Linked DNA regions of Homo sapiens. The protein of the gene in region 2 binds, or shares a complex with, the protein of the main gene of each other region. Each region holds a gene or a part of one and is shown on either strand. Other genes may lie near its edges. A codon is read from its position in the direction of its gene.

Region 1 (7,681 bases), about 12 Mb from region 2:
TGCCTTGCCAGTGGCCTAGTTTCCAAAGCTGTAATCACTTTCAAATTGCTCTTGCTTAGAAGCCTAAGATTTCCTTAGATCTGATTTTGGTAAACCTAGACTTCTCTAAACAAGATTTCTTAGCCACCATCAGGAAAGACTTCCACATCTAGACCCACTTGGGCTCCTCTCGGCAGTGACTGTCCTTCCTCGGGCCATCACAAAGGGCCCTCCTATCAGTGCAGCCTTGGTTAGAGTGAAAAAACACTACAGATAGAACAGAAGGTTTAAGAGAGTAAAAGTAAAATTTAATGTAGGAACTTCAAATGGTCTTTTCTTTGCAAAGAGCTTAAAGTATGCCAGAGTACCAGGGCACTGACAACTCCTTTGTTTTCATGAACTCTTTGTGAGGCAGAGGCAGAGGCGAATTTCCTACACTCCACCCATCAATGAGGGCCAGCAGAGGGGACCTTGATCTGCTCAAGGTCACTGAGCAAGGCTATGGCAACACACGGTCCAATTGGCTCAGAGCTTCGTTGTCAGGAAGATGCCATCATTCTATTTGCATTCATCTTCACTGAGTGCTTGCTAGGGAGAGGGCCTTGGAGAGGGAAAGGCCAGACTGAGTGTTACCTGCTGCCAGCGTCCTTACCTGTGCAAAGAGTACTACGAGGCTATCATTGTCAGGGAATCCGAGATGCTTGGAGTAAAAGTGATGGAGAGCAGCTATGTCACTCTGAATCAAATCCTTCTTCTCATTGTCTAACTTATCCAGATCTGTGGATAAATAATCCATTATTCACCCAGTAGAAAGCGTGGGATTTCTAGCTACATCCTATTTTTGCTGTAAATGATACAGAGGAAAGGAACGGGCGAAAAAAAAAAAACCCAAAACTAACATGTTGAACCCCCAGAGAACATTCTTCCCCATTACTTGGTTTAACTGACAAACCCTAAGGAAAGAAAGCAAGCCATTTCTTCCTTCTCTCCCTCTGATGACTAGAAGTCACTTGGGACGTGAGATTTCGACTGACTGTTAGCAATGAGGTCAGGGATGGGTAGCAATGACTCATAACCAGCCTCAGCCTAGTCAAGGGCCCCCCAATTGGCCCGGGAATCTGGGCCGTGGTCAAACAACTGGACAACCCCTGATTTCACGGCTTTCAGTAAGAACATCAGCTATTTAGAGGACGCAATTCAGCAAAGATCCAAAAGTATTCAGCATGCCAAGAGGGCCAGCAGGAGGTAGCTCAGGGTGCAATAATTCATTTTGGGAGCTCCTACCTCCTTTAATTATTTCCTAACAATCCTGTCAACTCAGAAGAAAAAAGCTAAAAGTGCTTTTCGAAACAGCACAAGAGTAAAAATAAAAACTAGTAATCAAAGAAATCACTACTCCTCTGAGCACAAACTAGCCCGTCCTCGCTTCAATCCTGCCCAACCCATGTGAAATCTGTGGCTGAGAGAACTGCGCGGCTGGTCACAGAAAGACTTACGTGATTCAAACTCCTTCACAGCTAACAATTTTTCCGAAGGTGTTCTCTCTGGGTGGATTTTCTAGCAATTGGGGAAGAAATCACACAGATACAGATTTTTTAACAACCAGTGTAATAAAGTGGCACTTTCACTTTTACATCAACATAAAGAAAAAGTAACAATTCTTAAGGAAGTAAAACAAGCTACTCAAGGACTCCACCACTAGGGCTCTCCACCAGCCAAATCCAAAGACTCTTCTAAAGCGCTTTTTTAAATGTCTACCGTGTACCTAACACCCTGATAATACTATGCACACAGTAGGCTCAGAAATACCTGTTACGGGAAAGAACAGGGCCGGAAAACAACTTTTTAGGGTCCTTACTTAAAAGGACTGGGTCTACAGACAAACCATCCTATTTATTATTTCTCCTTCTAAAAAGGAACAAAATCAAACCCCCCATCCATTTTACACTTTCTTTAAGCATAGGCTAAAATGATCTCAAATTCTGTGTTTCAAAAAGAACACTTTTGGTTGTATCTGTGAGCCCAGATTCACTTTAAACGCGTTGCTGGCTTTGTTCTAGACACCCCAAGAGGAGCTAACAATAGTAAACCCGCTAGGCTTTGAGAACATGAATAAACTTGGTGTTGACAAGAGTTCAAAGGCAGAGCTCAGGAGCTGGCCCAAGGCCATGTCTTTGTAATGTGGCTATTCAATTTGGGGATACAGGTGGTCTAGCAGGGCACGCTCACCTCCCTAGTTAACATGTTAAGCCTCCCCTTGGTAGTTTGGTAGCCTGTCTCCCCTAATCCTTTGCAAGCTACTAGAATACAAATGGTCTGTTTTTTTAATCATCAAGTCCTATAGAGATGAAAAGATGGGCAGGTAACTTTCATTTAATACACTATTAGTAGTAGTAGTAATTATAATAAAACTTGAATGAAGCTTGTATAAACTCATCTTTGCATTCAGACTACCCTCCTGGTGCCGAAATATTTCAATAGTTCTTTTTTGGAGCAGAAATCTTCCATTCACGGGATGCATTTTTATAAGATTTATAAGTCATCTCGCTTGGGAAAGCTTTTCATTCAGGAAAGTCTACCAGCCTCTTCTGAATTCTTAACATATCACTATAAATATCATCAATAATTCAGGGGAACAAAATAATAAAACACCAGCTTGGCCACCCAATCCTCCCAAGATGTGCGGAGATCCCATCTGATGACTTACTGACTCTGATACCTCACACCCAGTCATCCTATTCCCTCTGACTTATTCAGCCCAAATACTCTGCATAAATTTAAAAATAACTGTTATTAAGGATCCGAAAGTTAACCTCCTGCAGGGAAACAATTCTGATGTTTTGGTCTCACTCTACAGGCAACCCATGAATGGCCTTTGTTACTCTCGGCTGGCTGGCGAGGTAGCATTTCGGCAAGCACCTGACCCAAGCTGAACATAGCTGAAGGATGACCTCAGAGTTTTGAAATGTTCTACTTCTGTTTACACAGCCCAGGATCCTAACTTGGTCTGGGGACAGATACATGCTAATCATTTCCATCACATTTGGCTTAGATTAAAAAATAGAAAAATTTTAAGGGTGGAGGAGGGCTGGTAGGTATACAGGAGAAGTGGATGAAATTTCAGTTTGTTTTTTTTTTTCATTTTTAGAGACAGAGTCTCATTTACTTTGTTGCTCAGGCTGGATGGAGTATGGTGGCACAATCACAGCTCACTGCAGCCTTGAAGTTCCGGGTTCCAGTAATTCTCCTGCCTCAGCCTCCAGAATAGCTGGGACCACAGGTGTATACCACCACACCTGGGAAATTTTTTTAATTTTTAAAATTTATTATAGAGAATGGGTCTCACTTTGTTGCCAAGGCTGGTCTCGAACTCCTGGATTCAAACAATCCTTCTGCCTTGGCCTCCCAAAGTGCTAAGATTACAGGTATGAGCCACTATGCCCAGCCAAAATTTCAGCTTTAAAAGATTTATAGTCCAGAGGCCCTGCCACCAACTTCTCTGACAGCACTGAGGAGCAAGACCTCCACAGCCTGGACATATGCCTTCTAAGCCCCACACTGCCTATTTCATTGGATCACAAGGACAAGTTCTATGGCATTTTCCTGTCCTCTTTTTAGTTTGGCCCTTCGAAGATTAGGTGTCTAATTATTATGCAATCAGCAAGAATGAACCAGACCAGGCGGAGAACAGTCAGTACGGTGGCTAAAGCAATTTCATCTTGGATGCTGATATACCATGTTGATTTCTGGTTAACTCCTGCTCTGGGAATGCTTCTAAGATTTCTACTTTGTCTATGGCTACCTTAAATCCTGCCTTAGGTCAATACAATCTTGAGCACAAATCTTGCTCTCAGGCAGATTTGCATAGCATCCTTGCCTTTCCTTGTAACTGCTGTACACATTTCTTCCCTATGGTATATAAGCCCTGGCTCTGGTGGGTAATGGTGCAGGGATCCACCATCTTGTCTTGCTGCCGCCCAAGACATAGACATGGCTTCAGTTCATAAGTCCTAGTAAATGTTTCTAATAAACTGGATTTGTCAGCTTCTTTCTTCTGTCTCTCAGCTTCCTCACTCTTTGAGCGTAAGTTTGCATAGTCCTGCCCACCACAGAATAGTCAGAGTTGGCATCACTTCTGGAGAAAGCCATTGATGACTATCATCTGTTTCCATCAAGGGCACCTCTTTCTTTCCTTCTTCTTCACTTTTTTTTTTTAACTCTCTTCCCCTCTCCCTTGCCTCTATTTCTACTTTTCCACTCTTTCTCTTCTTTGCACATGTCATAGTCAAGGCTGTTCCATCCAATTCTTTGCCTGCCTATGCACAGGCAAGAAAGGAGCCAAGAAAGAGCAGAATATTACACAGGAAAGGGGAACAGAGTACACTCTTTATGTCAGAATGGAAAGAGAGGAAAATCTCAAAGCTGCTCAGACCAATCTGGTTCCCTAGGAAGCTCTAATTATTTGAGGTCAGGCTTTTCATGTCACGTATTTCCATGTAAACCTGTCATGAAAACAGCTCAGAATTTCAGAGCTGTGGCTATGCTCCTGGTCTAGGGTAAGCAACATCCTAATTGCACAGGGCACACAACTAACTAGATTATGCCTGGAGTATTTTCCCCACCCCTGTCCATATGGATATGATAGGAAATGTAGTCTAAGGATGTTTAACGAGAGATGGTTACCAAAGGTCAGTTACTCATCTTTCTGACCTTTAAAAGAAAAACAAAATAAAATGCACTTGAACATTGTCCCATTTCCTCACCTGTTTGGCCAGAATCCTTGCTGTTAGTCTTACAGTCTCCGAGGGATTCCAGTTTTCCCCAAAAACAACCATGGGAGAACATTCCAGCTTGTGCATGGGCCAATCTTCTTTCTGGGAAGATTGAAAAAAACATTATTAAAAAATAGCACATACACTGGAATAAAGTGTGAGAGGAGAGGATGCAGTGAGTCCCCCTAGTTAAGGTCAAGTAAAATATGTTTCCTTTTGGAAAACACGAGGATGCTCACAAAAGCTAGAGATAAAAACATCCTTTAAGATAGGCAGGATTGTATGACCTTCACTCAGGCCTGGGTCAAGCTTGTTGGGATGAGAAGATCTACTTTGTGTTTTTTCCTCAAGCACCTCATGGCTTTCTGCAGCCCCTCATTATTCTAAACAACACATACATCTTTCCATCATCTGTGCAAGCTGTCAAATTGCAGAGGGAGCAATTTGAGTATCAGCCATTGATTTGGCTTTGTTGCCTCACAGTTCCGCTCTGGCTTTGTTCTCACGTCAGGGCAAATAATGGAGAGTTGACTTACACAGCAATGAGTCCCTTTTACAGGCGACTTTTTAAAAAGCACAAATGAGGGTTTCATGAAGGGCAACCACTGGAAAGATTTAGGAATAGTTAGGACTTCCCAAAGATGCACTGGATAAAACAGTAGTATTCTTTCTTTCCTTTTTTTTTTTTGAGACAGAGTCTCGCTCTGTTGCCAGGCTGCAGTGCAGTGGCGCGATCTCGACTCACTGCAACCTCTGCCTCCCGGGTTCAAGTGATTCTCCTGCCTCAGCCTCCTGAGTAGCTGAGATTACAGGTGTGTGCCACTACGCCCGGCTAATTTTTGTATTTTTAGTAGAGACGGGGTTTCAAGATGTTGGCCAGGATAGTCTTGATCTCTTAACCTCATGATCCACCTGCTTCGGCCTCCCAAAGTGCAGGGATTACAGGCGTGAGCCACCGTGCCTGGCCTAACAGTAGTATTCTTTCTATCATACGCCCTGAAGTTTCCCTGCCCCGGGTAGAGGGATGAAGGATATTTGCTGCTGGAAGGGTGGAGGCGCCATCACTTGAGATGGGGAAGGCATTGAGAGAAGGACACCATGGTGTTTTGGAGGCTGAGGGAAGCAAGTACTTTGAGGACTAGGGAGTAAATGATGATGCCAGTGCTGGAGATAGGCTTAGTGTGAGAGGACGGAGAATGTGATTTGGAATCATGGAAGCTTGATGATTTTCATAAAAACAAGTTTTGGTGGGATGATGGGGTAAGAAATGACAGGGAGCAGATTCAAGAAAAAATGAAAGGAGACACAGCTTAGAGTAGTGAAAAGTTGCGGGGGACTTTTTTTTTTTTTTAGATGGGAAATATCAGAGCACGTTGTATACTGATGGAAGCCCTTACACACTGTCTCTTTCACGATGGAATTGGGTACTGTCCTGCTCTGTCCTTGGCCTTCCCTAGCTCAGAAAATGGCCATAAATGCTCAGGGCAGGGAGGCTGACATGGGCGGATCACCCGAGGTCAGGAGTTTATGATTGGCCTGGCCAACGTGATAAAACCCCATCTCTACTAAAAATAAAAAAATTAGCCAAGTGTGGTGGCATGTGCCTGCAGTCCCAGCTACTCAGGAGGCTGAGGCAGGAGAATCGCTTGAACCCAGGAGGCAGAGGTTGCAGTGAGCCGAGAGTGCACCGCTACACTCCAGCCTGGGCAACAGTGTGAGATTCTGTCTCAAAAATAAAAATAAATGCTCAGGCCAGAAAGCTAGAGTCATCCTTGACGCTGCTCTCTCACTCACACTCCACATTCAGTCAGTTCTGGCAAATCCTCTGTCTCTGCCTGGAATCTGATCACTTCTTAGCTCCACAACCTTTCTACCCGGCTGCAGCCCCAACATCTCTCATGACTAATGTCCTGCCACTGCCTTCTAACTGGATGCCCGCTTCTGTCCTTGCTCCCATGGACTAGGTTCCAGAGAGCAGCCTGAGGGATTCTGTTGACAAAACTCGGATCAGGCCAGTCCTCAGCTCAAAACCTAATGGCTTTTCTCATCCAGGCAAAAGGCCAAGCGCTAAAGGTGACCTAGGAGGCCACACGTGATGGGAGCGTCCCTGCACCACCCCAGCCCATCATCCCCCACCGTACTCTCACCTGCCTCACTGCACTTAGCCACAGAAGTGTCCTGGCTGCGCCTGGAGCCATGTACCTGCCTCAAGGCCCTTCGCACTTGCTCTGTTTTGTGGCTAGCACTCTCCTCCCCTGGATATCCATGTGACTCCCTCCCTCCTCTCCAGCCGCTGCTGGAATGTCACCTTCTCAAGATACCTGCCACAATCACCCTGTCAGAAAGAGCACTTCCCCATCATTCTTCCTTTCCTTGCTTTCTGCTGCTTCTTAGTACTTCTCACCACCTGAGCATATTATATATTTATTAGTTGTTTGGTTTAGTATCTGTCTCTCCCCAGGAAAATAAAGAAATTTTGTTTTGTTCATAGCTGTAACCCCAGAACTGACAACAGTGCCTGGCATTTAGTAGGCACTCAATATAGTTGTTGAAGGAATGAAGATATCTCCCTACCCGCTTCCCTCCACACTGATCCCCCAAGAAGGAAGCACATAATGTCACTTAATGATTTAATGCAGTCTATGGTGCAGCCCCTTAGCTCAAGTTCTGGGCCAAGATGTTCTGCAGAGTTAAATAATGCCGCGCCAAATATAACTAAGAGCAGGGAGGAAAAGAAATGACAAGATATGCACAAGGGAGAAGAGAATCTGTTTTTAGCCAAAGCCTAAAATGAGAGCATGGTGATGAGGCGAAGAGGTGGGAACAGGTGGGTCTGTCTCCCTGCAGACTAATCAGCTCCCTCCTCAGCTGCAGAGCAAAGAGGAAAAGACAGAGATGACCCTCGGGATACCTGAGAGGATATGGGGACC
Region 2 (8,146 bases):
TGACCTTGTGATCCGCCTGCCTTGGCCTCCCAAAGTGCTGGGATTACAGGCACGAGCCACCATCTCTTCTTTCCACTCCTGATCAATCTTGACAAAATATAAAACCAAACCAAGACAAATCAACTTTGTAAAATAAAGATAAAGTTGGAGGTCTCACACTTTCTGATTTCAAAACTTACTATGATGTGGCGTTGGAATAAAGACAAACATATAGACCAATGGAACAGAATAGAGAGCCCAAAAATAAACCCTCAACATATATGGTTAAATGATTTCAACAAGGGTGCCAAGATCATTCAGTGGGAAAAGGACAGTCTCTTCCACAGATGGTGGATCTCCACATGCAGAAGAATGTAGCTGGACCCATACCTTACACCAAATGTTTGTTGTGAGTTTATTTACTTTTTTGTGTGTGTGGAGACAGGGTCGTGCTATGTTGTCCAGGCTGATCTAGAACTCCTTACCTAGAGACACTGCCAAGGTAAGTGAGGGCCAAGTGGACACTGAGTGATTCTGTGCCTCACTGAGCAAAAATAACTAAACATGGGCGAAGGAGAGCCCAATGATCCCAGGGACAAAATGTCATCACGGGCATTCTGCGCACGCTTGCCAGGATACAGGAGAAGCAACCAGACACTTCATTCATCTTCTCAGAATGTTCATTAACATGTTCAGAAAGGTGGAAAACCTTACTTGCTAAAGAGAAGGAAATTGGAGGCATGGCCAAAAGTATTCAAGGCCCTTTATGAAAAAGAAATGAAAACTGATATCCCTCCTAAAAGAGAAGTAAAACAGAAATTCAGAGATTCTAATGCACCCGAAAGGCCTCCTTTGGGCTTTCACTTTGTGTTCTGAGTACTGCCCTCAAATCAAAGGAGATCCCGGTCTGTCCACTGGCAGTGATGCCAAGAACCTGGGAGGGACATGAGTGACCATGCTGCAGATGGCAAGCAGCCCAAAAAGAAGGCTTCTCAACTGAAGGAAAAGTACCAAGAGCAGAATGCTGCATATCCAGCCAAAGGAAAGCTGATGTGGCAAAAATGATGCTGTCAAGGCCGAAAAAGGCAAGAAAAAAAAACAAAGCGGAGAAAGACAGAGAAGGTAAGGAAAATAAAAAATGAAGTCGATGATAATGACAAATAAGGTGGTTCTATGGCAGCTTTTTTTTTTTTCTCTTGTCTATAAAGCATTTAACCTACCTGGACACAGCTCATTCCTTTTAAAGAAAAAAATTGAAATGTAAAGCCACCTAAGATTTATTTGTAAACTGCATGATGGCGTTCTTTTTCTGTTTTTGTATTATTAACAAGAATTATCAAGTAATTCTTCAGACAACCCTGTCCTGGTGGTATTTTGTATAGCCACCAACTTTGCCTGGTATACTATAGGGGTTATAAATCAGCATGGGAATTTCAAATTTAAGGCACAGTATAAGTTAGTTATATACAAATGTGAAGTAACATTATTAATTAAACTGTTGGCCTGTGCGAAGGGAGGGCCAACTGTGGGATTCAGTCATTCATTCAACAAATATTGGTGAGTGCCTGACACTGTTCCAGGCACTGAGGCTATTGCAACAAAACAGACACAAGCTCCTGCCCTCATGGAGCTTACATTCTGGTGAGGGATACAGAGCCACCAAAAAGGATGGCAGCTGGGCCATGAGAAAGGATCAAAGTCAGGAAGTTAGAATTCGGGGATGGATTGAACATGGGACAAAAGAGAAGAGTCAAGTTGACTACAAAGCATTTGGCCTAAGTAATGCAAAGAATGGTGGGCCATTTCCTGAGATGGGAAGCACTAGGGTAGTTTTGGACATAAATGGAGATGCATATAAGCCATCCAAACTGAAATATTGAGAAGGCAGTAGGTGATAGTTGGCTTTCCTTAGGTTCTAGGGCAGGAATTCTTAACCTTTTGTGTGTGTGCCTAGGACCCCTTTGGTGGTCCATGAAGCCCTTTCCAGAATAAATATTGTGGAGGAACCTACCTTAATGCAATAGTAGCTTCTAGGTACATTATCAGGCAAACTATCCCACAAGTTACAAAACAGAAAGCCTCACAGACCAAATTATGATGCTTGAATTGCAGGGTTTATTGAATCAGTTTAAAACCACTTACAGCAAGAACTCGATGGGGTGCATAACATACACAGGATAGGGTACAGGCGAGGCAGATGGACCACACCACCAGAACCTAGAATTAGGGAATCCTCCCCTCCCCTCCCCTCCCACCCCTCCCCCCTTCCCCCTCCCCTCCCCTCCCCTCCTCCCCTCCTCTCCCATCCTCCCCTCCCCTCCCATCCTCCCCTCCCCTCCCCTTTTCTCTTCTTTTCTTTTTTTGAGACTGTCTCACTATGTTGCCCAGGCTGGAGTGCAATGGCGTGATCTCGGCTCACTGCAACTTCCACCTCCTGGGTTCAAGCGATTCTCATGCCTCAGCCTCCCGAGTAGCTGGGATTACAGGCACGCACCACAATGCCCAGCTAATTTTTGTATTCTTAGTAGAGACGGGGTTTCACCATGTTGACCAGGCTGGTTTTGAACTCCTGACCTTAGGTGATCCACCCGCCTCAGATTCCCAAAGCGCTGGGATTACAGGCATGAGCCACTGCACCTGGCTAATATTGATATGTTTTCCCTCTCTCTGCCGCATCAGCCTGTCCCACTGACAGAGTTGAGGATGCTCAAGGCGGCTCAACAGAGGGTACCTGGAGCAACTCACACTGCACTATCAGAGAGACACAAGTGCAAGCACACTCAGCCACAGCTGCAGCTCACCAATCAGCCTGCTGAACAGACCTGAACTTTAGCTGCATTTTTGGGGCAGAGCATATGGGTGCCAGGATGGGACCATAATCTTATCACCAATGAGTGGCCATTTAGGGATGATATAGTTGTCAACCCAGAGATGGCATGATCATGCCTTTTGACTTGGTCATTCTCTAAGTAAAACTTTTATTTGTTCCATCATATTTTCCACTTATTCTGTTTACCTTCAAAATATCTTTTTTTTTTTTTTTTGAGACAGGGTCACACTGTCACCCAGGCTAGAGTCCAGTGGCACTATCATGGCTCACCACAGCCTCAACCTTCAGGGCTCAGGTGATCCTCCCACTTCAGCCTCCCGAGTAGATGGGACTACAGGCACCTGCCACCACCCCCAGCTAATTTTTGTAGAGACAAGGTTTTGCCATGTTGTCCAGGCTGGTCTTGAACTCCTGGGCTCAAGGGATCCGGCCACCTCAGCCTCCCAAAGTGCTAGGATTATAGGCATGAGCCACTGTGCCCAGCCTACCTTCAACGTATCTAACTGGTTACTAACTTTTAGGATTCGGCCTATGTCTCACAACCTTCTTGCTTACTCAACATCCTTGTCTCTTAAGCCACTAGCTTCTTCTCTATGGTTAACACTTTTTATGAGTTTTATTCATCTGCTTATTTTTCTTATCCTCTATACCAGAATTGAATATTTTCAAATAAAGCACACTCATGTTACAATCTTTGAAATGAAAAAAAAAAATGCATAGGATTAGAAAAGAAACCAATTTTAATAAACTATATTTTGAAGTATAGTTCTATATTAAACAACAAGATCTAGGCCAGGTGCAGTGGCTCATGCCTGTAATCCCAGCAATTTGGGAAGTCGAGGTGGGAGGATTGCTTGAGGCCAGGGGTTCAAGACCAGCCTGGGCAACATGGAGAGATTCCCCATCTCTTTCTTTACACACACACACACACACACACACAAAATATCTGATAGCAACAGGTGCAGTCATTACCACAATTTCGAGTAGTGATGAGCTTAATAATATTTCGAGTTATCACCAACAACTGTAAAGTAACATGAAAACGTCTGTGATGACTATTGCCCACAAAGTCACAGGTACTGCTAATACTCCTGGTATTTGTAGTCAAATTCATAATAAAGGAAATGCTAGGTTTCAGTTGGTATTTTGTCCCGACGGTCTGTGGACGGCAGGTTAGAACGCCCGTCCAAGCCAGGAGGGTGGACCTAGCACTGCAGGGTCCACCTCGGGCCAATCAACTATATTCCCGAGGCGGGGGCCTGCGCTTCCCGGACCCAGCTGCCCTCAGGGGAGAGAGGACACACTTAAGAGTTTGGGGCCGGCGTGGTAGCTCATGCCCCTGATCCCAGCACTTCGGGAGGCTGAGGCGTGAAGATCACTTGTAGCAGGAGTTTGAGACCAGTCTAGCCAACTTGGCGAGACCCTGTCCCTAAAAAAAATTTTTTTTTAATTAGCCAGTTGTGGTGAGCGCCTGTAGTCCCAGCTACTCGGGAGGCTGAGGTGGGAGGATCGCTGGGCTCAGGAGTTCCAGACTGCAGTGAGCCATGATGGCGGCACTGCACTCCAGCGCGGTGAGACTCAGTCTCAAAAATAAAAGGGGGAGGGGTTGGGGGTAAAATTAGTTGTGAAATCAAGTAAGACTTCCTGGGACAGAACAATCAAAGGGGTGGCGCCGGGTCCTCCAAAGAGCTACTAGCTCAGCCCAAGCCCCGCCTCGGCCCCCAGGGCAGCGGCCCGCAGAGCTCCACCCGGCAGGCGCCCGGGAAACTCCGCCCCCCGGCCGGCAGGGGGCGCGCGCGCCGCCGGCCCCGCCCCGTGGACGCGGGTTCCGTGGGCGTTCCCGCGGCCAGGCATCAGCAATCTATCAGGGAACGGCGGTGGCCGGTGCGGCGTGTTCGGTGGCGGCTCTGGCCGCTCAGGCGCCTGCGGCTGGGTGAGCGCACGCGAGGCGGCGAGGCGGCAGCGTGTTTCTAGGTCGTGGCGTCGGGCTTCCGGAGCTTTGGCGGCAGCTAGGGGAGGATGGCGGAGTCTTCGGATAAGCTCTATCGAGTCGAGTACGCCAAGAGCGGGCGCGCCTCTTGCAAGAAATGCAGCGAGAGCATCCCCAAGGACTCGCTCCGGATGGCCATCATGGTGCAGGTGCGGGCCGCTGTGCGGGCGGCGGGGCGGGGACGCGGCGCCCCGGGTTAACTGTGTCCGGGAAGGCTGGGGGAGGGCGGGCCCAGGGAGCGAGCGGGCCCGGGCCCTCGGAGCGGCACTTGGGGCCTATGGGGCCGCGGCCGCCCCTCCTCCCGAGCGGCCCGGCCGACCCTTCCGGAAGGTTTTGCTGATGTTGCAGGAAAAGCCCGGGAAATAAAGTCTGCAGCTGGTGTTGCCTTTCGCTTTGTGAAAACGAGGAGCCTCTTCTCTTCTCCTTTCTGGGTGGCGGTGTTTTATTACTGCCGTTCGCCTCAGGGGTTGGGGGGGAATTGTACATGGTCTCTTTAAGCTAATCTGATTTTGACCTATCTTGTTCTGGAGGGTTTTTGTTCTACATGGATGGTGGCGACTGACATGTGGGTTTTTTTTTTTTTTGTTAAACCTATTTTTGGCAGTCATTTCAACACGTCATTTAAACGCTCACTCTCATTTTTTATTTTAATTAGGCAGAACTATGCAGAAAGGTGTCATTTCTGTACAGTACATTCACTTTGAGCCTAATTTGTGCTTTAAAGTAACATTTTCCCCAAATTTTCCAGATTCACAGACGCGTTCTCTTGGTGCATTTGCAGCTGTCTGGTTTGAGTAAGAGTGGCTCCAGGGGGGTTTCTCATGTGGGCTTTTTGATAGATTGAATCCCCTTCTGAGGTTTCCTGAGCCTTCTGTGAGGTGGTGGGCTTGAAGGCCCCTGTCATTTCCCAGGGGCTCCTGCCTCCAGCTTCCAGTTTGCCGATGTCTACCTTTGTATTAATAATTCTGGTTCTCATCTGCCCTGTTCCTCCTCGCTTCCAACATATTACCCAAGCTTAGTGCTCATGGTCAAGGTAGCTTGATTTTCCTCCCTTCCATGAGCTGTAATGTGTTTTAGGAATGACCAGATATCCCTCAGTGGATTTTCAGTACTTAGTACAAGGGAGGGCGACATTTACCGAGTGGATACCCAAGTGCCAGGTGTACTTCCGTTATCTTATTTCACAATATGCCTGTCATCTTGGTGTCCTCGGGGCATACCTAAGTCAGTACGTGGCACACAGTGCTTATTTGGTAGGCATTTTTTAAGTTCTAAGCACTCTGTTAGGTTTTAAGGACACAGAATCCACCTTTGGGAATTTCCAGTTTGGTTAAACGGGAAATGACTGGTAAACAAACGTTACCGTAAGAGAGGATGGATGCCACCTGATGGAGCTGTGCTCTAGGCATTGTGTGCCTAGGAGTCCGAGATGACCCAGCTAAGGGTGGAAGCTTGATTAGGAGTCGTTAATTCACAGAAGTGGAGCAGAAAGATGAGAATAGGGAAGTAGACAGGGCCTACAATTTGAAGAGCCTTGTTGCCCACTAAGGAACCTAGAACTTACTTTGAATATACAAGGCAGCCTGTTATGAAGTTCTCACTCCTGGTGCAGGAGCTCTTAACCCAGGGTCTGTGGGATGGTAGGTAGAAGGCAAGAGGTCCATGAGTTTAGATAAGAAAAAATTGATATCTCCATCTCCACTAACCTCTAGATAAAATTATTTCCTCTAATCATAAATGTAAGCAGCAAAGCAAAGGCATATTAGCAGTCCCTATTTTTTTTTCACCAGTGATAATTACAGATATTTTCATATCACTTTACAGTTGGAAGTTTTTCAAAATATAATTTACTCTCATTGCTACAAAAATCACAGTTATTAGAGGCTGTACTAGATCTTGTTATTTAATGCTTAAAAGCTCACGGGTTACTGTACCCAAATTACCTTTCAAATGTTTTGATAATTATCTCAGTGTTTCCTTTTCGAGCCTTTTTGTTTGTTTTGTTTTTTGAGATGGGGTCTCACTATGTTGCCCAGGCTGGTCTCAAACTCCTGAGCTCAAGCGATCCATGCACCTCGGCCCCACAAAGTGCTAGGGTTACAGGCATGAGCCACCGTGACTGGCCATTTGCGAGCCTTTTTATTACGCATTTTTAAATGTTATTCTGAGAAAGGGACATCCAGGCGCCTTAACAGGTGGGCAGAGTACCGTGTTCTGGTGGAAAGACAAACAAAACCCAAGTCCAGACTGTGTTGAGGCTAGAACAACACCGCTGTGGAGGAAGTTAGAGGAGGCTTAGCTGTGGGGGAGGCCGGATGGAGGAAACTGAACCTGATCAAGTTTAGCATTCTGGGGCCGGGCTTGGTGGCGCATGCTTGTAATCTCAGCACTTTGGGAGGCTGGGGTGGGCAGATTACTTAAGCTCAGCAGTTTGAGACCAGCCTGGCCAACATGGTGAAACCTGTCTCTACAAAAAAATGCAATGATTAGCGGGTCGTGGTGGTGCGTGCCTGTTAAGTCCCAGCTACTCCGGAGGCTGAAGCTGGAAGATTGCTTGAGCCTGGGAGGTGGAGGTTGCAGTGAGCTGAGATAGTGCCACTGCACTCCAGCCTGGGCGACAGACCCAGACCCAGACCCAGACCCTGTCTGAAAAAAAAAATAGTAATAACAACATTCTGGGCTTTCCTTTGGTATACTTGATAGTGAAAGAAACTCTTTATTATTAAAAGTAACTGTGATTTTTATGTAATGGTGATTAAGGGTGGATTCAGAGTTTTAATTCAGAATTTAAAGTTGGTCTGGTAGACTGAGCTGGTGAAGGCCAAAAAGAAAGAAGCCTTTTCACTTGCTTGAATTTAAATACCTTCTTTTACATTTACATGGGAGTATTGTTCTCTGAGTATCTGATACCTGACACTTTAGCCCTCATGCCTGGGGCATCTTGGGAGGGATGAGCTGGGCCCTCCAGCATTTTGGTGGGAGGAGGATGGCGGTAGACCTTTGAGTTGCTCTGTCCTGGGAGGGTTTGAGCACCCGGAGGCATGCAGTGAGGTCAGTTCATTCTCTCTGTGGCCTAGGTGGACAGGTAGCATGGCCTGTTCTGCACAGAAGGGAACCCAGTTCACCAGCTGCTGGTTGGGTGAGGACCCTGGTATGTTAGGTGCTCAGTTTTTGCTTGGGTGCACAGCCAAAGATTCTGTGCCTTGCCTCAGCTGTGCAGCTAACAAATGGAGTCGATAGTCTTGTGACCTTGGTTTGGTGCCTTTCTGCCACATCATTCTCAGTCCTGAGTTTAGGGCAAAGCATTGCTTTGGTCAGGGGTGCTTCTGCTGAGGCTCTTGTCCTCT
Region 3 (7,681 bases), on a different chromosome or scaffold from region 2:
TCACTCACCTCTATTCCAACCCCTTCCCCATGAAAGTTCACTGCATTTCCCATACTACTCTTTAGCTCAGGCTCCACATGGGACCTATCTTCTTCCAAGCAGCTGCAATACTTTGAAATCTCAGAGGCAGAAGAGATACCACATGGAGGCTGTGCTTCCACGATCTCCATCAATGAGCACAGCTGTAGAGGCATCTGATGGTTCTGCAGCAGCTGTAGCTGAGATCCCAGCACCTGGTTCTTAGCTTCACGGGGGCTGAGAGGCAAAGAGTAGGGCATCCATTTACCTGGCCCAGATTATACCAAAGATAATGTGGTCCTAGAGCCACTCACTGTGGCAGCAGTTCTCGAATTCCCAGCTCCCTGATGGTGGCAGAGACAAAATCCACTGTGAGCCACACAACTGTCATTCCTGGAAGCTCAGCCTGCTCCCTCAACCCTTCCAAGGATATAATGACCACCTCTTTTTACTTTATTAAGCCTTTCTGTTTGAACCATACATAAGAAATAAACTCTTAACAGGTGTTTAAAATCAGATGTCTAACAAAACTGTTGATGTTGCCATGGAACACCTGAGGTCAAGTATTATTTTCGTTAAGTAAAATAGTTACATAAGAGGTGTATTTTTTTGGTGAAGAGGCACAAAATAACAGTATAGATAAGACTACCTGCAAAAGTCATGGAAATTATCTCTAGAAATCTACAATTATGGGCTTGTCTCAAATCCGCTTTGTTTTTTTTTTTGGAGATAGAGTCTCACTCTGTCACTCAGGCTGCAATGCAGTGGCGCAATCTCGGCTCACTGCAACCTCCGCCTCCTGTGTTCAAGCAATTCTCCTGACTCAGCCTCCTGAGTAGCTGGGATTACAGGTGTGTGCCACCATGCCTCCAGCTAATTTTTGTATTTTTAGTAGAGATGGGGTATACCCATGTTGTCCAGGCTGGTCTCGAACCCCTGACCTAAGCGATCTGCCCACCTCGGCCTCCCAAAGTGCTGGAATTACAGGTGTAAGCCACTGTGCCCAGCCCCTCAAACCCCCTTTGTAATGGACTAATGTAGTATAAACATTGTAAACAAATATAAATTAAAATATTCTTACTTGACTGCAGCAAATACATTATCTCCATTTGGAACAATTATACAATTTTTCTTTGCTTCATTTATACCAACATATACAGGAAATTCATCAGGAGAATCCCTGTGTAAGCAAAAGACATTAAAAATTTAGCTGCCCATAATTTATATTATCAGGCAAGTGGGATTTCAGGTCTACAGACAACAATTTACACCTATTTTTTTTCCTTTTTGGAGGCCTTTTTTTTTTTTTAATCATACCAGAATTTATCGATTACATCAAACAAAAATTTCTGTAATGGAAAAGGCAAGTTGCAGTCATAAAAGATGGCATTCACATTCATTTTAGAAAGCAACAACGTAGATGTAAAAAATTGTTTAAGTGAAAAATGTAATATTGCAGTCCCATTTTGCAAGCTGAAAAATTTTGTCAACACACATAAAATCTGCACATTTACATACTGCATGTTAAAAAATTCCATCACTAAAGTATTATAAATATTGCAAAGTTAGGCTTAAATTTATACTGTTGCTGGTGTATATGTAGTAGATATGGAATGAATGTTTTCAGTTTAGTAGGTAGCATCCTCAAACAACGGACAACAGTTGTGAAAATTACAAAGACATTTCAATAGCTCAAAATTATCCAAATTATAGGTACATCGTCCTATTATTACACTTTTTTCCCTTTCTCTGTCACAAATAGGATGATTACATTGTAGTGGTAGGAATACTGCATGGTCTACTTCAAATTATTCGATCTGCTAACCCCACACTAGTCATTTTTCATCAGCTCCTCAGTAAAATATCTTTTAAAAAGGAAAGCCAGGTCCCTCCCAAGGATCTAGGTTGATGCCTTTTTTATAAGGGCATTTTTAAAAAAATTCAAACAAATTTGCCAGTTTTAAGCTCCAAGTTTCTTAGGAATATCTATGATAAATCTTATATAATGGAACCTAAAACTAAGATTCTTAGGACCTAGTTGCTTTTATACTCAAATACAAAAAAAAAAAAAAAGGAAAAACAAGAAAAAGGATTGTAAAACATTAGAGATGAAAGGATCCTATTCACGTATATAACCAAACCTTTTATTTTAAAATTGAGGAAACAAATACCGAGAGGTTAAATTACTCAGCCAAGGACCTAGTAAGTTAGGACCTTGGCTACAGTATAATTCAATTCCTAGCCACATGTGCATTCTGCTGTACTACAACACTTCTTCCTGGGCACGTTCCTTCTATTACCTTACATTTAATCTTCACTTTAAAGGATAGCATTTCTACTGGTACAAGCGGACAAGTATTTTCCTCCTGGAGTTTCTCTATTTCTAAGTATTCTGCATGCATTCATTTAATTCTCATAATATTCCTATCAGGTATGTACAGTTATCCCTATTGTTACAAGACAGGAAACCGAGTCACAGAAAGTCACAGTCAGTAATGATACAGGGTCACACAGATAATAAACAAGAGGACCAGTGTGACTCCAGAGACCACTCTTAACTACCAGTTGCCACTCTGGCACACGGCTTATTAAGCACAGCTGCTCTAAATTATCTTTCTTGGGCCAAAAGAGCTCTTCTGAACCCAAAAGGGAAAAAAAGTTTACAAGGAAAGGAAAAACAAGTGAGATTAAACCTAAAGAGTTTACCCATCCTAGGGAAGGTTAAAACGGTAACAGCAAGAACAACAGATGGCTCATATATCCACCAACAGGGGAAAATATGCCTTTCACCTTGGGTGAGGCTAGTGAATAACTATTTATCCTCATTAGCAGGACAGCAGCTGTATTTTAGAGGCGAAGAAAAGATCCTTTACCTGAAATACCCCATGTGGTACTGAGTTTTATTATCTCCAATAATAATGGTCTGGAACTCAGGAGGATCATAGTAAAACCTCCAGTGAAGGTTAAAATTCAGGCCTGTTGATTTTTTCTTCGTTTTATGTTTTCCAGCAAGGATATCATAAGGACCAACTAATTGAAGTCCAAGGCTTGCAGAAAGTGAATCTATAAAGAAAATAAATTTAGACAATACTTTCTGGAGACAGGTAGGAAATAATGCTTTTATTTAGTAAACTATTTCTAAGCAATTGTCTTTAAAAAGTTTCTAAACTAAAAAAATCTTGAGTTATGTGTGAAGATGTCAGTTATAAACATTCAATGGAAAAGAAGTCAGAGTAACAGGAAAAGTGGTATTTACATTTAGGATTTCCTCTTAAATTTACCACTGAATTAGCCTAACATTTCAGACATTCCTGTTGTTTCTTATTTTGGCCAAAGCAAGACTGGTTTGTATTCCTATAGGCCCATTACCACACTGCAGTTAGCCTCAAATACTTGTAGTACACACAGGTTAAGGGAGAGAAAGATAGCAAAAATGTGTGGATTAAGAGTAGTAAAAAACAGGCCAGGTGTGGTCGCTCACACCTGTAATCCCAGCACTTTGGCAGGCTGAGGCGGGCTGATCACCTGAGGTCAGGAGGAGACAAGCCTGGCCAACATGGCAAAACCCCGTCTCTACTAAAAATACAAAAATTAGCCGGGTGTGGTGGCTCACGCCTGTAATCCCAGCTATTGGAGAGGCTGAGGAACAAGAATCACTTGAACCCTGGAGGTGGAGGTTGCAGTGAAACGAGATTGCGCCATTGCACTCCAGCCTGGGTGACAGGGTGAGGCTCTGTCTCAAAAAAAAAAAAAAAAAAAAGGTAAAAAACATTTCTATCCCCTTTCCTCTACCTCAGCTAATCACACCAGATTCCCCTGACTCTTTGACAATCTATTTGGCCAACCCTAACCCTGGATGACTCCATCTTCCTTCTCTATTCACGGATCACAGACAGGGAGTGTTCATAAACCACAAAGACATGAAGTCTGTGCAAGTGTACAATGCATAACTTCAAATGGGTCCTTACTTCTAAGATGGAGGGAAGCACCCCAGACAGGACCCAGTTTTATAAGGAGGGAAGGATGAAGAAAACAAAAAAATTCCTGGAAGAGGTAATAACATGAATAGAAGCATGGAGATAACTTGACAGGAAAAATAGTTCAGCTTAACTGAAGCTTAGGAGAGCATACACTAATTTTTAAAGCATGAAGAAAACTAAAACCATCCATCTCATTAGCCGAAGATAACAGTTAATAGTCTATTATACAGTAACAAATTTCCATACTCTCCACCCCCATGAACAGATACAAACATGTAACAAACTGAGAAGGGTTGTTTTGTATTGTAATCTGCTTTTGTCCTCCATCCTGTCCCATTTAAATGTTCTGAATATTTTTCCATGCTATTCAATGTTATTTGACATGATTTTTTAATAGGGCATAATACTGCATTATAAAGAGGTAACCATCTATTCTCTTACTGAGGGAAATTTACTATTTCTTTTTTCTGTTCTAAAATGTTTCAGTGAACATCTTTGCTAATAAATGTTTGTATACAGGCATGACTTTTTTTTTTTTTTTTTTTTGAGATGGAGTCTCGCTCTGTCACCCAGACTGGAGTGCAGTGGTGTGATCTTGGCTCACTGCAACCTCCGCCTCCTGGGTTCAAGCAATTCTCTGCCTCAGCCTCCCAAGTAGCTGAGATTACAGGCACCCGCCACCACGCCCAGCTAAAGGCATGACTATTTTTAAAGAAACAGCTACACAGTTCTGTTCTGATCTACTGGCAAAATTCAGAATATGTATCAATACACATTTCCATCAATAGTGTATGACAGTGCCTACTAGTTAAAAAATTTAAATAGTATAGTGCAAAGTAATGAACACAGCCCATTAACAGTTTCTTTATCCTTTCAGAGACAAAATAAGCACACAGAAAAGTATACAGGGATATGTGTGTACTCTCTCTCCCCCATGCTATTTTTAAAAAAATACTAATGGTAGCATACTCTATACACTCTTCTTTTTCACTTAACATATTTCAGGCATGATAGTTTATTATTTCCTAAAAATCTGCTTCATTCTTTTAAAACAATGAAGATCTACTGAATAGATGTGGTATTGGTAGGCATTTAAGCCATTTCCCATTTTTTCTTTAAGTAAATATCCTCAAACATAATTCTTAGTTTATGTAATCCATAAGACAAGTTCTTGGAAGCAGAACTGTTATAACTCCTGCAACACATGAAAGAGCTTGCTTTCCTTCACATTCCCCCAGAATGTGATGAAATTACCTTTGCCAATAAACTAGGTGACAGTGGCATTACTATAGCATTAATCTATATTTCTTTCTATATTTTCTCTTACTAGAAGAAACATCTTGGAAAATATTTGTTTTCTATGAACAGTTTATATCCTTGGTTAGGTTTTTTTTTTTTTTTTTTTTTCTGAGACAGGGTCTTGCTCTGTCACCCAGGCTGGAGTGCACTGGCACAATCTCGACTCACTGCAGCCTCTGCTTCCCAGGTTCAAGCAATGATCGTGCCTCAGCTTCCCGAGTAGCTGGGACTACAGGTGTGCACCACCATGCCCAGCTAAATTTTGTATTTTTAGTAGAGACAGGGTTTCACTGTGTTGCCCAGACGGGTCTCGAATTCCTGACCTCAAGTGATCTGCCTGCCTCAGCCTCCCAAAGTGCTGGGATTACAGGCATAAGCCACCATGCCTGGCCAATTATTCTATGTTTTAGAGACGGGGTCTTGCTCTGTCACTGAGGCTGGAGTGATCAGAGCTCACTGCAACCTCAAACCACTGAGCTCAAGGAGGGATCCTCCCATCTCAGTCTCCTAAGTAGCTAGGACTATAGGCACATGCAACCACGTCTAGTTTTTTGTTTTTGTTTTTAATTTTTTTGTGGAGGTCTCACTATGTTGACCAGGTTGGTCTCAAACTCCTGGCCTCAGGCAATCCTCCTGCCTCAGCTGGGATTACAGAGTGTGAGCCACCACACCCAGCTGGTTTCCTATTACATTACTCTTTCCATTAATACAAGAATGATTCTGGAGCAACTCACCAGATGGCTTTTCAGGATCAAGTTCTTCACAGAACTTCCAGAAGTGATAGAAATCTTCAGGTAAAGAAAGCTTATAATGATTTTCTACTTCTTTTCGAAGGTCACTGGAGACATCAGCTTCACAGAATTTACTTTTCTTCACATCAGTTGTTTTTTCACACTGAAAATTGGCACACAAACTTTAGTTCTCCAAATTTCAGTAACTCTCCTTGCATAACAGTATCTATCACTCTTGTTCACCCAACTCTATGAAATACATGTGTTTTCCTTAAAACTCTCTAAATGGTCTTTGAGTAAAATCTGGGAATTCATTTGGGCACAGGAAAAAAGAGTAGTTTATATGGTGGTTAAGAGGAATCCACACAGCAAGTCTTTAAATATATTTTTGTAAGATAATGGAAACCACAAAAAACAAAAAGGTAAAAAAAAGAAATAATAAAGAGCAGGAAGAGAGGAATAAAGAAAGGGCAGATTTTGCCCTCTTTTGGTTAAAGGTGTGAGTCTTTTAAACAGATTCATTGATCAAATGAGAAACAAATAGAAGTAACTGGATATAAGCAATTCATCAGTTAAAAAGCTGTTTCTTTAGCAACTTCTAGAGTTGTGTCTGAGCTATTCACTACAATCATTACCCAGCCTTAAAAACAGATACCTCCCTTTTGATTTTCCAGATAAAGAGGGAAGGTTAGTGACAATGTTAAACATCTATAGTTCCTAATAAAGTTAGCAGAATAGCACTAAACTCTGGGCCAAAAATCCAATTATTTCAGAAAAGGCCTTTTAATGCCAGGATGAAGTTATAATACTCATCTCTAGGACCACCACAATACAGGTTCATTATATAAGTATACTAGGTTTTATAATGCCTACTAGATATTTGATAAATTTCTGTAAAGACAATATGCTTAATTGGAAGTTACGTATGTTTAGTTTTCTAAGCAGCAATCTGTTTTTCTATGAACCTAGATTCTTTCTTTTTGGATTAAGTTCTTTCCTTTTTATTCTTCCTACCTAGAGCAGTGGTTCTCAACCGGTGGTGATTTTGCCCCCCAGGGGACATTTGGAGACCTATTTAGTTGTCACCAATTGGAAGAAACGGTGCTAGTGGGGCAGAGGCCAGGTATGCTCAACATCCTATAATGCCCAGGATAGGCATCCTCAACAAAGACTACTGGCCCCAAATGTCAACAGTGCTCAAGTTGAGAAATTCTGAGCTAGATGTTTCTCATATTTATATATTTTTTTATTTTATTATTATTATACTTTAAGTTTTAGGGTACATGTGCACAATGTGCAGGTTTGTTACATATGTATACATGTGCCATGTTGGTGTACTGCACCCATTAACTCGTCATTATTAGGTATATCTCCTAATGCTATCCCTCCCCCCGCCCCCTCATATTTATATTCTTCTATTTTCTCAGTAGTCTGAAGTTTATTAACGTTAGGTATCATTCAACGTCTACAAAATGTAATCAGATGATACAAGAATGGTCATGGTGGCATTAATTCCAAGAGCAAAAACAGAACAAATGAAATACCTATTGTTAGGAGAACAGTTGTAAGGTTTTCAAACAATAGACTATTACACTTAATATTACAGTTGACCCTTGAGCAACAAGGGTTTGAATTTTGTGGACCCACTTATAC
Region 4 (7,492 bases), on a different chromosome or scaffold from region 2:
TTAGAACACTTCAATGGATACATAAGAAACTTCATAGTGATCGTCTCTGAGAACTAGGGGATCTAGGATAGGAGAAATATTTGTCTTTCCCTTTGGTACTATTTGAATTCTTTACTATTAGCATGCATTACTATACAAAACTAAAGTTTCAGTGACCTCCAGTGCCTACAATACAAAGTCTTTCATGAATCTCTCTCCTGTTTACCTCTCACGCTTCTCTCTCAAGCCACTACTCTATCTAGAATGGCCTCCCATCCAAATATCAGCTTAGCTCTGAAGACTCTGTGCAGGCCAGGCGCAGTGGCTCATGCCTGTAATCCCAGCACTTTGGGTGGCTGAGGCGGATGGATCGCCTGAGGTCAGGACTTCAAGACCAGCCTGGCCAACATGGTGAAACCCTGTCTCTACTAAAAATAAAAAAAATTAGCCAGGTGTGGTGGTGGGTGCCTGTAATTCCAGCTACTTGGGAGGCTGAGCCAGGAGAATCGCTTGAACCTGGGAGACCACGCCACTGCACTCCAGCCTGGACAATAAGAGCAAAACTCCATCTCAAAAAAAAAAAAAAAGACTGCCCAAAAGGGACTTCCTCCTGACTTCTCCATACAGAAGTGACCTCCTTTTCCTTAATGTCTACTGTGTACCATATTCAGACTTCCAACATGGTACTTACAATTCATGTTGTATATAATAGTTAAAATCAAAGTCTATCTCCCTCCATTAGCCTTAGATTCCCTGAGGACAGGAATTCTTTTTATTTTTTTTTTTTTTGGAGACGAGTCTCACTCTGTCACTCAGGCTGGAATGCAATGGTGCAATCTCGGCTCACTGCAACCTCCGCCTCCCGGGTTCAAGTGATTCTCCTGCCTCAGCCTCCCAAGTAGCTGGGATTACAGGAAAATGCCACCATACCCAGCTAATTTTTGTTTTTTTTTTTTTTTTTTTTTTTTTTTAGTAGAGATAGGAATTCTTATTCACCCTTGAACTTTCAGAGCCTTGCTACAGGATCAGAATTTCCAGCGATGGGGCTTAGGCAAGTGTTTTGACAATGTTCCTCAGGTGATTCTAACTATCCTATGTTAACTGCACGAAAACGTAAACTCTTTCACATCAGGAATCATCATTACGCAGCACAATGTAAGTGCTCAATAAATGCTTTACTAAATTGAACTGAAACAGAGAAGTCTGGAAGATGAGGGAGAAGAGTTTGGAGCTAAAGATTTGGAGGCATCAGGATGTAAGATGGTGTGAGTGCAGTGAGAGGAGGAAGGAAGCCAGGAAGGACTTCTTGATGACCCTTTCACTGTAACCACAGAAGACTCAATTACATGTGTTTTCCTTAGGACTTGAGTTCCTTAAGGGTCGGGAACTCTCCATCCTACTCATCTCTGTAAGCCTGGCGCTAAGCACAGTGCATGGTACATGTTAGGAGCTCAGTAACCTTTTATTGATCTTTTATTGAGCTGTATCAGTGCCCCTGGTAATAGAGGGGGGTAAAAAACTTCAGGGACACACAGGAAGAAGTGACTAACTTGGCATAGGAAGCTGGATACATTGATTTTCAGAGGGACAATTAAGCTCAGTCTTCAAAGAGAAGTTCGCTTGGCAGAGCAGTGTCAAGATCTTCCAAGCAGAAGGAACAGCAGGAACTAAGTACTGAGATATGAAAGAGGGCAGCCACAATCTTTCCACGTGGCCAGGAGTCAGGTGCGTAAGAGATTTACAAAATGAGATTGAGAGGGTCAGGGCCAGACTGAGAGGCCACAGACACCCACCTACGGATTTAAGGCTAACTGTGGGTGGTCAAAGAGGAGTTTTAAATTTAACATCAGATGATCTACCTTTACTTTGTACAAAGTACTAGTAGGGCCGGGTGTGGTGGCTCACACCCGTAATCCCAGCACTGTGGGAGGCCGACGCGGGCGGATCATTTGAGGTCAGGAGTTCGAGACCGGCCTGGCCAACATGGTGAAACCCCATCTCTACTAAAAATACAAAAATTAGCCGGGCGTGGTGGCGGGCAGCTGTAATCCCAGCTCCTGGGGAGGCTGAGGCAGGAGAATCGCTTGAACTGGGGAGGCGGAGGTTGCAGTGAGCCGAGATCGGACCACTGCACTCCAGCCTGGGCGACAGAGCCAGACTCCATCTCAAAAACAAAACAAAACAAAACAACCAAAAAAAACAAACAGGCCAGGCGCGGTGGCTCACGCCTATAATCCCAGCACTTTGGGAGGCCGAGGCGGGCGGATCACGAAGTCAGGAGTTTGAGATCATCCTGACCAATAAGGTGAAACCCCCATCTCTACTAAAAAAAATACAAAAATTAGCCGGGCATGGTGGCGCGCGCCTGTAATCCCAGCTACTCAGGAAGCTGAGGCAAGAGAATCGCTTGAACCCGGGAGGCGGAGGTTGCAGTGAGCCGAGATGGCGCCACTGCACTCCATCCTGGGCGACAGAACGAGACTCCGTCTCAAAATAAAATAAAATAAATAAAAAATTGAAAGTACTAGTCGAAGCACGAATGGCAAAGAATTGAGAGGCTCAAGGAAAAAAGCTTCATTAGCGGCTGAGGTCCAGGTGACAAACCCGAACAAGGCAACGAAGGGAGGGAGTGAGAAATCCGTTCCATAAAACCCACGATATAAGTAAAGCGGCCTGTGAATTCCGACCACTGCTGACCGCCAGGCCACACACCGGTTTTTTTCAGGAGGTCTCAACTAGATGCTAAGCTCCGAAGTGGAACTCCCTCAGGCACTTTCTGTTCTAATTCAGGAATTCCAAGCCCCTTTCCATCACAACCCCATCCCGCGGGAGACCCAAGCTGTGCGGAGCAGCGTAGGGCTAAGCCCGCGTCCGGTGAGACCCGGGAACGCGGCGCGGGAGACTAAGGAGCAGAGTACAGAATTGCGCGTGCGCGCCTGCAGCACGAGCCCCGCCCCCTGGCTCTAAACCGGGTGGCGGGAAAAGGGACTCAGCGTTTCCCGAGAATGCCCCCATAGCTTCGAAAGGATCCCCGTGTCCGCTTAGCGCCCTCTCGCCACACACTCACTCACCCGCTCCCTGCGGGTCCTCAGAAGCCCGGAGGAGCCACCGGCCCTCTGGCGCGGGGCCGCAGCCTTTCCGCCACCAGGCTCAGCTGGACCGGTCCCCGCCTGCGCGAAGAGCGAGGCGGGGCGAGCCGGGCTGGTCCACGTGACTCCGAGCGAACTGGGGCGGAGATTGGTGAAGAAGGAAGGAAAAGGGAAGCGAGTGCAGGGACTGTTTTATGTGAGGTCGATCTAAAAATCACAGCGCTATGAATTTTCTGCTGAATTATAGTAGAATCAAAGTCCGATTAGAGGTGAATTTACAAACATTCTTCCCCTTCTTCTAGTCAAGCGGACTATTCCAAGTCTTAAATAGTTAGTTAGAAAAGTTAGGTTTTATTTGGGAGGAAGTAAAGAGCTGAAGTACAGGGAGGAATGGTCTTCTGGGATAGGGGATGTCCGTTGTATTATAGGTATAAATTTAAAGCTTTCAAAGTATGCAAGAGGCTCATAAAAGGAAGAAAGCAACCGTAAATATTCATTGAACAGTTGAGGGTCTCTTCTGGCCTCTGCTGAGATGATCTTGCCAAAAGGAAAAGAAAATAGGGCTGTGCTCTGGCCCCCTGTAATCCCAGCTACTGGGGAGGCTGAAGCAGGAAGATCGCTTGAGCCCAGGATTTCTAGACTGTAGTGTGCGATGATCGTGCCTGTGAATATCCATTGCACTCCAACCTGGTCAACATAGTAAGACCCCCTCTCAAAAAAAAAAAGAAGATAGGGCTCAAACAAATAATAATCTCCTGAATTATTAAGCATTTGAATAGAAGGAATCAATTTCTGGGGTATGAGGGAGTTAGAAGAGATTTGCTTCAAGATGAAAGGACGGATGACAGAGAAATGAAAATACACAGACACAAAACAAGAAAAAAAACACGGAACTAGTGATAAAAGCAGAAAGATGCCATTTGAGGAGTGTTTTGATTTGCTCTAAATAAATTAGAACAGAGTCAAAGCCTCTCCCCTCATGCCCCCTACTACCACCCGTTCATTTATTTGCTCCAGGAATCAGATTTCCTGTGTTGGCCTTAGGGAACAATTGTGGGGCTTAAATACCATCTGCCAGGCAGCCACAACAGTGGATGTCAGGCTGACCAGTTAAGCTGCTTAATTTTTCTAGATTCTAGGCTTGCCCAAGCTCTATTTAGGTTGGAAGCTCTTTGGCCCAGGACCTCTGAAGAGATCCATTATGTCAGAATGAACACAACCAGCCAGCGGATGTAGACAGGTTTACGTGGCTTTACAGAACAGCTAAATCCTAGTGTTCACTTTTCTCAGAGCTACTTCCCCACCCAAGTCCCTGGGGCAAGCATCCCTAAGATAAGTAGGCTATATATTCCCATTAACTTCCCCCCAATTCTTCGGTACACCTACATCCTGATCTGGGGCTAATACTCCGTTTTCACCACCCACCTCCCTTGAGTCCCTTCTCCTAACCCTTGGAAGCCTTGTCTCCTCCACTTCTCTCCATCTGCCTCGTGTGAGGAGTAACTCCCTGCTTCTCTGTTCCCTCAGAAATCAAGAGCCACACACTTGACTGGCAGCAGGGTAAAGGCCAGAAACTTAAGGTGTCGGTTACCCAGTACTCACCATACTGGGTCGAGGAAGGGAGGTATAGGATGGCACCTCTTTTTGCTTCCTTAGCTCTCATGCCCCAAAACTCAGACACAGCCACACTCACATTCATATGCACAATCAGCACACACGGCGAAGGGTGGTGGGATGGGGAGGAAGGGAAGTTTGCACCAACCAGCTCATGAATGCAACTTGAAAGATTTCACACAGCAAAAGGAAAAAAAAAAAAAAAACAACCACATACATAAGTTAAAAAATAAAGAAGTACATGACCCTCCCCACAGTCTCTTTCTTCATCTAGGGGCTGGCTAAACCCCTCCACGTAAACTCAGAAGCTTTCTACTCCCTCTATTCAGCTGGAGCTTCTACAGGGCCTGGGTGTTCAGTTCAACAGGTTCCCCTGTGACCTCTGGTTGTCCATTGGAGACATCGGGTTTGGCACCCTTGAGGACAGACAGTCTCTCAGAAATACTCTTGAGCCGGGGGAAGAGAAGAAAGTCGTACAGGAGGCTGCCCAGACCCCCTCCAATGATTGGGCCTACCCAGTACACCTGTAGAAAGAGAAAAGGAATACTCAGGCTTGGGGAGGGGACAGAGTAGCAACGCTGCTCTTTTTCCAGCCACCTTAGTGGAAAACAAGATATTGTACACTTGATATCTACAATAAACTCACCATTTATTTTCTGATTCATCAAATTACTCCTTTATCCCACACCTTAGCATGTGTATATTCTATTTGTTATCAATTTGCACTAGTTTGTATGTTGCTTTCAAAAAAATTTTATACATTGTGGTAAAACACATATAAAATTTACCATATTAAATATTTTTGGACAGGCGCAGTGGCTTATGCCTGTAATCCCAGCACTTTGGGAGGCTGAGACGGGCGGATCACAAGACGGGCGGATCACAAGGTCAGCCATTTGAGAACAGCCTGACCAACAGGGAGAAACCCCATCTCTACTAAAAATACAAAAAGTAGCTGGGCGTGGTGGCAGGCGCCTGAAATCCCAGCTACTCAGGAGGCTGAGGCAGGAGAATTGCTTGAACCCAGGAGGCGGAGGTTGCAGTGAGCTGAGATCCTGAGATCAAGCTCCACTGCACTCCAGCCTGGGTGACAGAGGGAGACTCCATCTCAAAAAAATATATATATGTTTTTAAGTGTACAGTTTAGTAGTGTTAAGTATATTCACATTGTTGTGCAACCTATGTCTAGAACTTTTTCATCTTGCAAAGCTGTAACTCTATACCCATTAAACAACTGCCTATTCCACCCCACCCCCATCAGCCCCTGGTAACTATCCTTCTACTTTGCGTCTGTGAATTTGAGTACTCTAAATACCCCATATAAATGTAATCATACAGTATTTGTCTTTTTGTGACTGGCTTATTCACTTAGCATAATGTCCTCAAGATTCATCCATGTTGTGGTATGTGTCACAATTTCCTTCCTTTTTACAGGTAATATTCCATTTATGTATATACCACATTTTGTTTATCCATTCATCCACTGAGGAACACTTGGGTTGCTTTTACCTCTTGGCTATTGTGAATAATGCTGTTATGAAAATGGGTGTACAGCTTTGAAAAATTTTTAAATTATTTCCATATGTTTGGCTTGCACAACATCAACATAACCAATATTTATTGAGTGCTTACTTTATATCAGATTCTGTGCTAAATGTTTCTCACATATAACTTTCACACATTTCTCGTAATGTCCCATTTTATAGTAAAACAAACTGAAGCACAGAGTGATTATTTGCCCATGGTCACACACAAAGCCGATAACGTATTAGAACTGGAATGGGGCTGAGGCCCATCTGTGCTCACAACACATCTTGATCTCTGAGAGCAGAATTTATTCTGCTCATATTTAGTTGTCTCTCTTCATACCCGCTAGTTCAGCAACCAGTGAATACTCAGTGCATACTCCCTGACTAACCAGAGAAGGAAAAATATGAGCAAGAGCCTCTCCTTCTAGCAAAATCATGAATCCTGCTCACACAGGCATGCCAAACTCTCTGACAGCCCCCTTAGCTGAGTGCTGGTACAGCAGCCAACACACGCAGAAGGAAAGCAGGAATCCAGCCTGGAACCTGCAGTCCACAACCATCCAGAAGGGCTTCAGGATCTTGCCCCTCTCCCTTCACTCACCCAGTGGTTAGTGAAGTTCCCAGTGAGAATGGCAGGAGCAAAGGAGCGGGCAGGATTCATGCCTGCACCAGTATAATACATCTGCAAAAGAGACAGTTGTAACTGAGACACCCCCCTACTGCACCCCAGCTTCTCTCCCCACAACCCACATTGCCCCTGAGAGCTGCCATCTTTTCTCCAGCCAGCAGCAAGTGGAGAGGGACAGCCTGCATGACTCTCCAGGGGTTCCTGCAATGGGGTGAGGGCAACTGATGCCCTGTCTGGGAACAGACTATGGATCCATAGGCAAAGCCCATGTCTAGCCATGATACGTTCATTTCTACCTTGGGGTCAAGAAGGACTAGATATAGCAGTCACAAGAGAGGGATAGGGCAGAGTTGATTCCTTTGTGCCAGTAGAGAGTGCAATGGACAATGTTCATGTTTGACAGTGAAGTAGGCAGGAAGAACCCTTAAAAGTTGGGAAAGGTTTAGGGGCCCCGGAATCCTTGAATGAGAAGTTGCTCTCCTTCCTGCTTACCCCAAAGAGGTGCCCCAGGGCAAGGGAGAAGCCAACGGCCAGGGCCACGGAGCCCAGTTGGCCATTCCGCCTCTCGTCGTATGTGGCAAAGATGCAGAGCACGAACTGGAGCGTCAGGAAGATCTCCACTGTGGTTGCCTGGCCCACGCTCACCGCAGGGT

Evidence for each region.
Region 1: the proteins of PARP1 (region 2) and SMYD2 are in contact, whole or in part, in a crystal structure (PDB 9CKC), measured with the Homo sapiens proteins. Residues at the interface, in NP_001609.2 of Homo sapiens: Thr526, Leu527, Lys528, Gly529, Gly530, Ala531; in NP_064582.2 of Homo sapiens: Thr105 (codon at 4,778), Leu108 (codon at 4,769), Val179, Asn180, Cys181, Asn182, Gly183, Phe184, Thr185, Glu187, Leu191, Ser196, Ala203, Met205, Tyr240, Ile241, Asp242, Ser257, Tyr258, Asn380.
Region 3: the proteins of PARP1 (region 2) and HPF1 are in contact, whole or in part, in a crystal structure (PDB 6M3I), measured with the Homo sapiens proteins. Residues at the interface, in NP_001609.2 of Homo sapiens: Thr825, His826, Asn827, Ala828, Arg865, Met890, Lys903, Asn906, Tyr907, His909, Ser911, Gln912, Gly913, His934, Lys953, Ser983, Leu984, Leu985, Tyr986, Glu988, Thr1011, Ser1012, Leu1013, Trp1014; in NP_060337.2 of Homo sapiens: Asn234, Val236, Asp261, Arg264, Leu265, Phe268, Gln272, Glu273, Thr276, Phe277, Gln279, Phe280, Asn282, Asp283, Glu284, Cys285, Tyr287, Tyr304, Lys307, Val308, Gln311, Leu315, Leu319.
Region 4: the proteins of PARP1 (region 2) and TIMELESS are in contact, whole or in part, in a crystal structure (PDB 4XHU), measured with the Homo sapiens proteins. Residues at the interface, in NP_001609.2 of Homo sapiens: Gln846, Lys849, Pro850, Phe851, Leu854, Arg878, Ile879, Ala880, Pro882, Asn928, Lys940, Lys943, Gly944, His946, Tyr992, Asp993, Ile994, Ala995, Gln996; in NP_003911.2 of Homo sapiens: Asp1036, Gln1040, Pro1043, Val1045, Pro1046, Leu1047, Thr1048, Glu1049, Glu1052, Glu1053, Glu1056, Ser1074, Gly1075, Gln1076, Glu1077, Thr1078, Phe1079, Arg1081.

The regions. Positions count from the first base shown.
Region 1 is NC_000001.11:214,311,934-214,319,614, reverse strand, and holds part of SMYD2 (N-lysine methyltransferase SMYD2), read right to left. Parts: intron 4,854-7,681; coding exon 4,743-4,853; intron 1,537-4,742; coding exon 1,476-1,536; intron 757-1,475; coding exon 632-756; intron 1-631. UniProt on the Homo sapiens protein: Protein-lysine N-methyltransferase that methylates both histones and non-histone proteins, including p53/TP53 and RB1. Specifically trimethylates histone H3 'Lys-4' (H3K4me3) in vivo. The activity requires interaction with HSP90alpha.
Region 2 is NC_000001.11:226,404,612-226,412,757, reverse strand, and holds the start of PARP1 (poly [ADP-ribose] polymerase 1), read left to right. Parts: upstream 1-4,664; 5' UTR 4,665-4,828; coding exon 4,829-4,948; intron 4,949-8,146. UniProt on the Homo sapiens protein: Poly-ADP-ribosyltransferase that mediates poly-ADP-ribosylation of proteins and plays a key role in DNA repair.
Region 3 is NC_000004.12:169,747,645-169,755,325, forward strand, and holds part of HPF1 (histone PARylation factor 1), read right to left. Parts: intron 6,192-7,681; coding exon 6,032-6,191; intron 3,082-6,031; coding exon 2,892-3,081; intron 1,199-2,891; coding exon 1,100-1,198; intron 1-1,099. UniProt on the Homo sapiens protein: Cofactor for serine ADP-ribosylation that confers serine specificity on PARP1 and PARP2 and plays a key role in DNA damage response.
Region 4 is NC_000012.12:56,446,260-56,453,751, forward strand, and holds the start of TIMELESS (protein timeless homolog), read right to left. Parts: upstream 3,168-7,492; 5' UTR 3,051-3,167; intron 1-3,050. Other genes in the region: MIP (lens fiber major intrinsic protein), read right to left, coding at 5,021-5,206, 6,813-6,893, 7,332-7,492. UniProt on the Homo sapiens protein: Plays an important role in the control of DNA replication, maintenance of replication fork stability, maintenance of genome stability throughout normal DNA replication, DNA repair and in the regulation of the circadian clock.